Regions from separate parts of the Homo sapiens genome. Here region 1 is linked to region 2. Evidence: fine-mapped expression QTL. A gene starts in region 2. The other region holds a variant in brackets. All regions are shown on one strand. Distances are between the middles of the regions.

Region 1 (4,352 bases), 92 kb after region 2:
GACATACAAATGGTCAACAGGTATATTTAGAAATGTTCAACATCACTAATCAGGGACACGCAAATTAAAATGAATATGAGATATCATCTCACACCCGTTAGAAGGGCTATTACCAAAAAGACAAAAGATAAGTGTTGGTGAGGATGTGGAGTAAAGGGAACCCTTGTGCACTTGGTGGGAATGTAAATTAGTAATTATGGAAAACTGTATGGAGTTTTCTCAAAAAATTAAGAACAGAGCTACTGTATGATCCAGCAATCCCACTACTGGGTATACATCCAAAGTCAGTATGTCGAAGAGATATCTACACTCCCATGTTCACTGAAGCATTACTTACAATAGTCGAGATAGGGAATCAAACTAAAGTGTCTGTCAATGAATGAATCGATAAAGAACATGATGTGTATATACTCAGTGGAATACTATGCACCCTTAAAAAAGGATATACCATCATTTGTGACAAAATGGATGAAACTGGAGGATATTAAGTGAAATAAGCCAGGCACCAGTACTGCATGATCTTATTAATATTTAAATGTAGAATCTAAAAAAAATGAGCTAAAAGAACCAAAAAGTAGAATGGCAGTTACCAGAGACTTGGAAGGGGTATTGGAAGATGCTGTTCAAAGGGTACAATATTTCAGTTACAAGGAATAACTTCAGGAGATCTAATGGACATCATGGTGGCTACAGTTAATAACAATACAATGTATGTTTGAACATTGTTAAAAATAGATTTTAAGTGTTCTCACTACAAAAAAATGGTATGTGAGGTGATACATCGTTAATTAGCCATGTCAGTGTACACATATTTCAGATCACGTTGTACATGTTCAATATAAATTTTGTCAATTTAAATATTTTTAAAATGTTAAAGTAAATACAGTGTTTATAACCAGGTTTAAGAAATCATGCCACTAAAATAGAAATGCAAGTTGTCTTTGAGTGGTGAGATTATAGGTGACTTTTTCCCATTTCTCATTAGTTTATAATTTTCAAAAAAACATTAGCGTATATTAGCTTTAGAATGTGTTATTTCATTCAGCAGTGACTCTGTTGAGGACTTACTGTGTGTCAGGCACAGTATTAGGCACTAGGGCTATGGCAGTAAAAACCAGAGATAGAGTCCCCGTTTTTTAGTCTAGTGGAAGAAAGAACAAATTAGCCATTAATAAGGAAATCCAACAATGTTATAAGGCACTGAAGAGAAGCAGGTGATGCAACAGCCTCATTAGGAGAGGTGACTTATGGGGTGACAAGGGAACACATCTGCAGAGATGACACAGGAACCAGGATGAGAATGAACCTGCCTTGCAGAGTCATGGAATGGCCTTCCAGAAAGATGGAACAGCAAACTGTTGAAGAGGTCGCTAAGAATAACTGTGGTCGTTTATAGAATGGAACAGTAATTCAGACATATTTAAAATTCTCACAGATAATATTCATTTCACAGGGGCTGGCCGCAACTATGCACTGGGGAGGATTCTGTAATTATACTGCCTTCCACATATAAATTTTGCCCTTGGCCGGGCTCTGTGGCTCACACCCATAATCCCAGCACTTTGGGAGGCCAAGGTGGGTGGATCATTGGAGGTCAGGAGTTTGAGACCAGCTTGGCCAACATGGTGAAACCCTGCCTCTACTAAAAATACAAAAATTAGGGTGCCTGTAGTCCCAGCTACTCAGGAGGCTGAGGCAGGAGAATCGCTTGAACTCGGTAGGTGGAGGTTGCAGTGAGCCAAGATCACGCCACTATATTCTAGCCTGGGCAACAGAGCAAGACTCTGTGTCAAAAAAAAAAAAAAAATTTTTTTTTTTTTTTTTGCTCTGACTAGTTATTGAAACTTGCAAGTTTGCAAGGACTTGTGCCAGATACCAAGCCAGGAAGGACAATCCTTGAATTGGCAGAAACACGTATCATTGTGCTTGTCATCTGTTGTTTATAGGTTTTCCAATAATATTTTTACCAAATAAAATATTAACTGAGAATTTATTTGGGGACATATGGTTATGGACTGAGTCTGGCAATATGTAGCAGCAACTGCATTCGACATTGAATGGCTTTAAGGCACACCAAATACACCATGCTTTTTCTCATTATCAGTATCTCTGCCTTAAAAAGGAAAACAGCTACGTAGCCAGCAAGCGGCACAACCACATTTGAAGCAAGGTCTTGCTAAATTGCACCCACAGCTCTTTCCAATCCAAGGAGAGTCAGCTCTAGGGCTATCTCAACTCCAGGGCCACCTGTCTTGGTTCAGTAGCAGAAAAAAGCCTGTGTCTGGGTT[T/G]GATAAATTCTCCCAAATAAACAGACTCTTAGCTGAAGCAGGACCTGGATGTGGCTGTGTGGACAAGTCATCAGTCTCTGAGAAGTAAACATGAACATGATCACAGCTCATAAATTCCCATCGCATTCCCCGGGAGGGCGGATGGCCAGGAGCCCTTGGGGTTTTCAGCCAGTACTGAGGATACAGGCACACACCCCAGCCCTTGGGAGGAAGGTGGAGCCTGGCCTTTCACTGCCTTTTTCAGTTGAAGAGCTGGAGACTGGCCCCTAATTACCCAATACCCTAGACCCTGAAAAGTACCCCATGGAAACCAGCATCAGATTAGAGATGGGTCAGGTGGATAGCACCAGTGGGGAGGGAGCAGGACAGCTTTGGCTTTGGGTCAGTGCCTGTCTAGGATCCCCCTCCTTGGGAGACCTGGTACCCTGCACCGTTAGTCCACGGTTCAGCCTTCCACTCTCCACAGCCTCATTGCTTTGCCCTGACACCGGAAGGGAGAGCCTGACTTCAGAGCCCTTCCGGCACTAAGCACAGGGGTCCACAGAGCAAGGGGTAAGCTTTGACTGGGCCAATGACCTGTTCTTCCCTTGGGCAACAGCAATGACCCAAGACATGGAGCTTACAGAGCTGATGGGGGACACAGTGCACCTCACTCAGCCCGGGTTGGCACACCCACACTCCATGGGCAGGGCAGGAGTAAGCATGGCCCCCGGGTGCCCCACTGGCAGCCACCTGTCAACTGCTGGGCACGGTGGGGAGAAGATAACATCATCAGGTCCTTTTGCCCTTCCTCCCCTGCAGCCTGGGATGCCACGGAGGCTGAGCATACACACATCTGAGGGCCGATGGTCAGTGGCCATGAATGTCACTCTTCCTTCCCAAGGGAATGCCTGCATCAGCCAGGCTGTAGTGCCCTTATAGCCCTCCTGCTGTTTTCAAGGGAGAGAATTAACTGGCCGTGACTGGCTAAGGACTGAGGTGCCCAAGGAGGCTTTGACTAAACAAGCAGAGGCATCCAAGGTTGGAAGATGTCTTTCAGATGCTGTAACTCACAGGACCATGAGTGTCCAAGGATACCAGGAAGATGGAGCCTTGCATCTAGACCAGAGCCCCATCCACTGTGATGTGGATTTTCTGGGATCCTGAAAATAAAAGTAGAACATCTTCCTTCCCACTACACCTGGACACCTTCTCTGCACTCACCATGGACAGTGGTCAGCATTAAGAAATCACAGTTCTGGCCAGGCGCCGTGGTCCACACCTGTAAACCCAAGCACTTTGGGAGGCCAAGGCGGATGGACCACGAGGTCAGGAGTTTGAAACCAGCCTGGCCAACACAGTGAAACCCTGTCTCTGCTAAAAATACAAAAAGTAGCCGGGCATGGTGGCATGCACTTGTAGTTCCAGCTACTTGGGAGGCTGAGGCAGGAGAATTGCTTGAACCTGGGAGCCGAGATCACACCTCTGCACTCCAGCATAGGCAACAGAGGGAAACTCTGTCTCAAAAAAAAAAAAAAAGAAAAATCACAGTTCTTAGCCAAGAATCTGTGATTTCAGCACCCTTCTACCCCTTGGTAGTTCTAGAAAAAGGATTTAGAGTTGAAATCAGTATTCCATGACCTAGTGTTTCCCAGGCTTCTTTGTATCACAGACTAGATAAAATGTTTGCAAAACTCCCTGGGAGAAACACAGGAGACCGCTCGTAACTGAGCAGCCTTGACACTCACTCTTGTAGTCTATTCTTGCTGCATGTTGGAGATCTCCACCAGAGACCGATGAGATCTGGGGTAAAACAAAGTTAGAGAGGTTTAATGCAGGACCAATGTGCACAGCTGATACTAAGTGTTACATCACAGAGGAAGCCATAATATGCAGCATTTCTGAAACTTTTTTAACCAGAACCACCCTTTTGGTCCCCACGTAAACATCTAATGAGACGAGTGTCCTGGAGACTCCATTTTGGGAAACCTTTGTAGTAGATTTATCTGAAGACGTGGCTTTATGATCTCTGTAGTAGAACTTAGCTAATAAACTCCCCTTTCCTCTGATGGCAGGCAATTCACC
Region 2 (4,392 bases):
TTTTACCACATGTCCCATCACCTGGAAGCAACTGGACAAATTTTGAAGGATGTAACAGTTTAGTGAAGACTTAATTATAGTGTCAGTTGGGAGTCACCACACTGAAATGATGGAGTCCATCTTAAAGTGTACTTACTGTGTGTGCTTTGAAACAGAACATACATATACGGTACTATCCACCCCACAGCCAGGACATATAGGTCTCGGAATCAAGAGATGGAAGTGGCTCATGTCACTATTAAACCCAATAATTCACTCACAGAAGTTTTGTTTCCCCTCCTGGCTACCTTGAGCTCTGCTTGTTTGGAAGTCTTAGTCCCCAAAGAGGAACTGCTCACTACGGTACACTGCAATGGCTCAATCAGGAAGAGAAACCCAATCAGTGAGGCACTCTGCCAGATCTTACAGGGGAGAAAAGCATGACTGATGTGTCTGCTGAATCCATGAGGACGATTTCTTGCAGGTGCTCACTTCTGCAAAATACACTGTGGGAAGTATTGGAAGAGTTTTGATTCTGTCAAGTTTATACAACAAGAGAAAAAACAGCCATGTTTGCTGATTTTTATTTATTTGCTCACCTATGTGGAAAGAAAAGAGAGGGCCTTACAGTCTTTTGGGGTAGACAAATCTTTTCCAGGCCTTCAAGACACTTGAAGATGCAGTTAGTAAGAAAAACTTTCTTACTATCTTATCTGATGAGTTACAGTATAGGACTAAAATAGAGCAGGGATTCTGGGTCATACAAAATTAATGTTAGGTCAGTTGCACACTCCTTGAGCCATCATTGGTGACTCTGCTAAGGTTTTCTCTTAATTTGCTCTGTGTATATCCTGGTTAAAGGGCCGACCTGTGTCTTTAGAGCATTTCCTATATTTGGCCCTATTCTAGTGTTGTAGTTAAGTACATGGATCTGGAGTCTGATTGCTGGGAGCTGAATCCTAGCTTGGTCAACTTGTAGCTTTGTGATCTTTGGTGTCAATTAACTTCTCTGTGCCTGTTATCTGTAAAATGAGGATAATAGTTATATCTACTTCAGAATATTGTTTGGAGAATTTATTAAGATGACATATGTACAGTCCTTACAACAGTGATTGGCCCATGGTCAACAATGACTAAGGTTTAGCAATTCTTATTATAACTTGGCAGTGTGTGCTGTGAGTCTGCCTGCCAGGAATATAAACCATTTGGGATCCCTGCTCTCTTTCTCTAGCAAACCTGCAGAACACCTGCTAAATAGCTCATATAGACTGAATTATGTCTCCCCTCCCACCTCCAAATTCATATGTTGAAGTGCTAACTCCCTAATGTGACTGTATTTGGAAATAGGGTCTTCAGGCAGGTAATTAAATGAGGACATAAGGGTGGGGTGATAACCCCATAGGACTAGTGACCTTGTTAGAAGAGGAAGAGACCAGGGCTCACTCTTTCTCCATCACACACAGAGAGAAGGCCACGTGAGGACACAGTGAGAAGGTGGCCGTCTGTAAGCCAGGAAGAGAGGCCTCACCAGTAACCAACCCTAGCACTTTAATCTTGGACTTCCTGCCTCCAAAACTCTGAGAAAGTAAGGTCTGTTATTTAAGCCACCAGACTAGAGTATTTTATTATGGCAGCCCTGGGAGACTAATAGCATTATGAAATTGCATAATTTAAATATTCAGGGTGGATGTGGGGGCTCACGCCTGAAAGTTCAGCACTTTGGGAGGCTGAGGTGGGAGGATCGATTGAGCCCAGGAGTTTGAGACCAGCCTGAGCAACATAGCCTGTCTCTACTAAAAACAAAAAATTATCCGGGGTGGCAGTGTGCTTGTATTCCCAGCTACTTGGGAGACTGACCTGGGAGGATCACCTGAGCCCAGGGGAGGTCGAGGCTGCAGTGAGCCCTGATGGAGCCACTGTACTCCAGCCTGGGTGACAGATATAGACCTTGTCTCAAGAAAAAAACAAAAAACAAAACAAAAAACCTGTTGCCTTTAGAGATAAAGATGGAACTGTGGAGTCAGTATCCTCAAATTCACTCACTGATGTGAAAAGCTGTTTGGGATTTACTTCTGAATGTATTTCTCAGGTGTACAGTGTTTAGAAAATGGAATCAGGGATTATGGAAACCAAGAAAATCAGGGCCAAATGATTGCTTTTTGGAATCTTTTATCAAAGCTTTTCTAAGATCTTCATTAAATAACTAGCAAATCTGAGAGAGCACGAGATCTCAGCCCACACTGAATTTCCTAATCTCTGGGAATATAAAGTCAGATTTGGTTTCTATGTATTTTTACTCTGAAATGTAGAGAAAATGTAAAAACTTAGGCAGTAATCGTGCAAATTAAGAGTCATTCTTTAATGAATGCCTTGCGTTTGCAAACAGGCTTTACGCCTGGCAAGCTCGGACCACGTCCATCGTGGGGCGCCAGGAGATTGCTGGGCCACTGTCCCCAATTCAGGGCTGGGTCCCGGCGTCCCCGCGTTCTCCGAGTCCCTGGTCCCCGCCCCAGCCGGCGCCGGGACCCGCCCGACTCCCCGCCCCTCCCCCGCCCACGCCCCAGCCGCAGGGGGCAGGGCGGGAGGCGGGCGCCCGGCGCGTCCAGTCCCCGGGACCCTTTTAAAGCGTGGCGCGCCAGGGCCGGGCATGCCGAGCCCCGTGGCGGAGACAGCGGTGCGCTCAGCTCCCGGGAGCGGCCCGAGCAGCCGAGCGCCCAGGGCTGCCCTTCCCGGGCCGGCGGGCTCCCCGGGCTCCCCGCCGCCGCCCCGTGCGCCCCGGGAGGGCCCGGCATGCTGCGCCAGCTGCTGCTCGCCGCGCTCTGCCTGGCGGGTCCCCCAGCGCCCGCGCGCGCCTGCCAGCTGCCCTCCGAGTGGAGGCCCCTGAGCGAGGGCTGCCGCGCCGAGCTGGCCGAGACCATCGTGTACGCCAGGGTGCTGGCGCTGCACCCCGAGGCGCCCGGCCTCTACAACCACCTGCCCTGGCAGTACCACGCCGGCCAGGGGGGCCTCTTCTACTCGGCCGAGGTCGAGATGCTGTGCGACCAGGCGTGGGGCAGCATGCTGGAGGTGCCCGCCGGCTCCAGGCTCAACCTCACCGGCCTGGGCTACTTCTCGTGCCACTCCCACACCGTGGTCCAGGACTACTCCTATTTCTTCTTCCTCAGGTGAGCCCGGCGGCGCCGCCGCCACCTCTCTCTCTCTCTGCGCCACCTCCCGAGGTCGCCGTTACCTAGAGCCAGGCCGGTAACTCCCCGGGCAGCCTGTCGGTGTCAAGTGAGAATGCCCCTGGGGCGCCTACCCCTTGCCTTCTTGGATCTTTCTTGCTCCGTCTGACGTCTCTACAGACATCCTGACTACCCCTGGTTAAGGCGGTTTAAAAGACAGGGAAGGTTTCTGTGCCTTGTACACAGAAGAGCATTGCAGACAGAAGCTCAAAGCGCCCTCCAACAGTCCCTTTGACTTGGGTTTTTAAACTGGCCTCAGTGGGAGTAGATTGGGACGGTGAGAAAAACAATCTTTGAAATCAGTCTGTGGCTGGCATTTTGGCTCTGCCCTTCCTAACCGTGATTCTGAGCGCATTTCTTGACACCTTCTCAAGAACTTCCATAGCCTCACCTGTGTAAAGTGAGAGACAGGGCTGGTTGAGTGAGGAACGTAACTCATGCAAAGCACCTGGTGCAGGTTAGAAGTTGACCAGCTGTCCACTCTCTCCTCTTCCTCATTTGCTCAAATGCCAAGATGTGAATGGTGTGGAATGTAGCCCGGGATTGCTTCACTGTCTCATATCAGCTGCCAGGTTCTTTGAAATAGCAAAGGTTTACTAGGGCTTGGGGTTCTGCTGCTGGTAAAATCCTGGGTAGCAATGCTTTGAGGAGTGGAGAGGTGAACCAGGCCAGGAGGTCCTCTTTGATTATAGACCACTGGAATCTTCTGAAGTTCCATGAACTTCAGAACTTGGCCTGTGGTCAAGATGGAATGCATCTGCCTAAGAATTCAGTCAATTCTCATTGACTACTGAATTCTTCTGAAATTTGAATAGAGAGTGCCAGGTAGAACTCTAAATTCTTTGGTTAGCTTCAGTTGGAATTTGGAGAGTGATATAAAACAACTGAGAAAAACATCAAAATGGAATCTAACCTATCTATCAAGATAGTAAATTAATCCACTGTTGGGGTGATCGGTTGTAGTTCGTTTTCCCAGTCTGGGAAGTAGCACTGAGGATATTTGGAATGAGGCTGACGTGGGTCTGCAGATTCACTTTTAGCTCGCATTTCTCTGAGAAAGAAAACAGTTCTACAAAGTGGTGTTTGTAAGTGCATGGCAACACATGTTTTCCATATTGAAGCCAGAATATCTAAGTTTAAAAAACACGTCTTGCTTTGTGTTGGCTTGAGTGGTTCAGCTAGATTAAGT

Alleles and levels. Positions count from the first base shown, and alleles are read on the strand shown. Sizes are in standard deviations (SD) of each study's normalised expression.
In carriers of allele G in region 1, the expression in lung of the gene that starts at base 2,627 in region 2 tends to be higher than with T alone (moderate effect, 0.47 SD a copy in GTEx).

Evidence for each region. PIP is the estimated chance that this variant, and not a neighbour inherited with it, causes the effect.
Region 1: its variant is fine-mapped to the expression of CCDC3 in lung (GTEx, PIP above 0.99).

Annotation. Positions count from the first base shown.
Region 1 is chr10:12,908,067-12,912,418 of GRCh38, reverse strand. All of the region lies in intron 2 of CCDC3 (coiled-coil domain containing 3), which reads left to right. It overlaps LOC105376418 (a long non-coding RNA gene), which reads right to left. Exons shown (of 3, transcript XR_001747367.3): 2 at 4,016-4,070. Among named protein-coding and RNA genes, the nearest start is that of CCDC3, 91 kb to the left of the region's middle. The variant T/G (reference allele first, on the strand shown) is at 2,289.
Region 2 is chr10:12,999,948-13,004,339 of GRCh38, reverse strand. CCDC3 (coiled-coil domain containing 3) reads left to right here and starts at 2,627. Exons shown (of 3, transcript NM_031455.4): 1 at 2,627-3,143. The coding sequence starts at 2,770. RefSeq lists enhancers at 2,497-2,997, 2,998-3,498.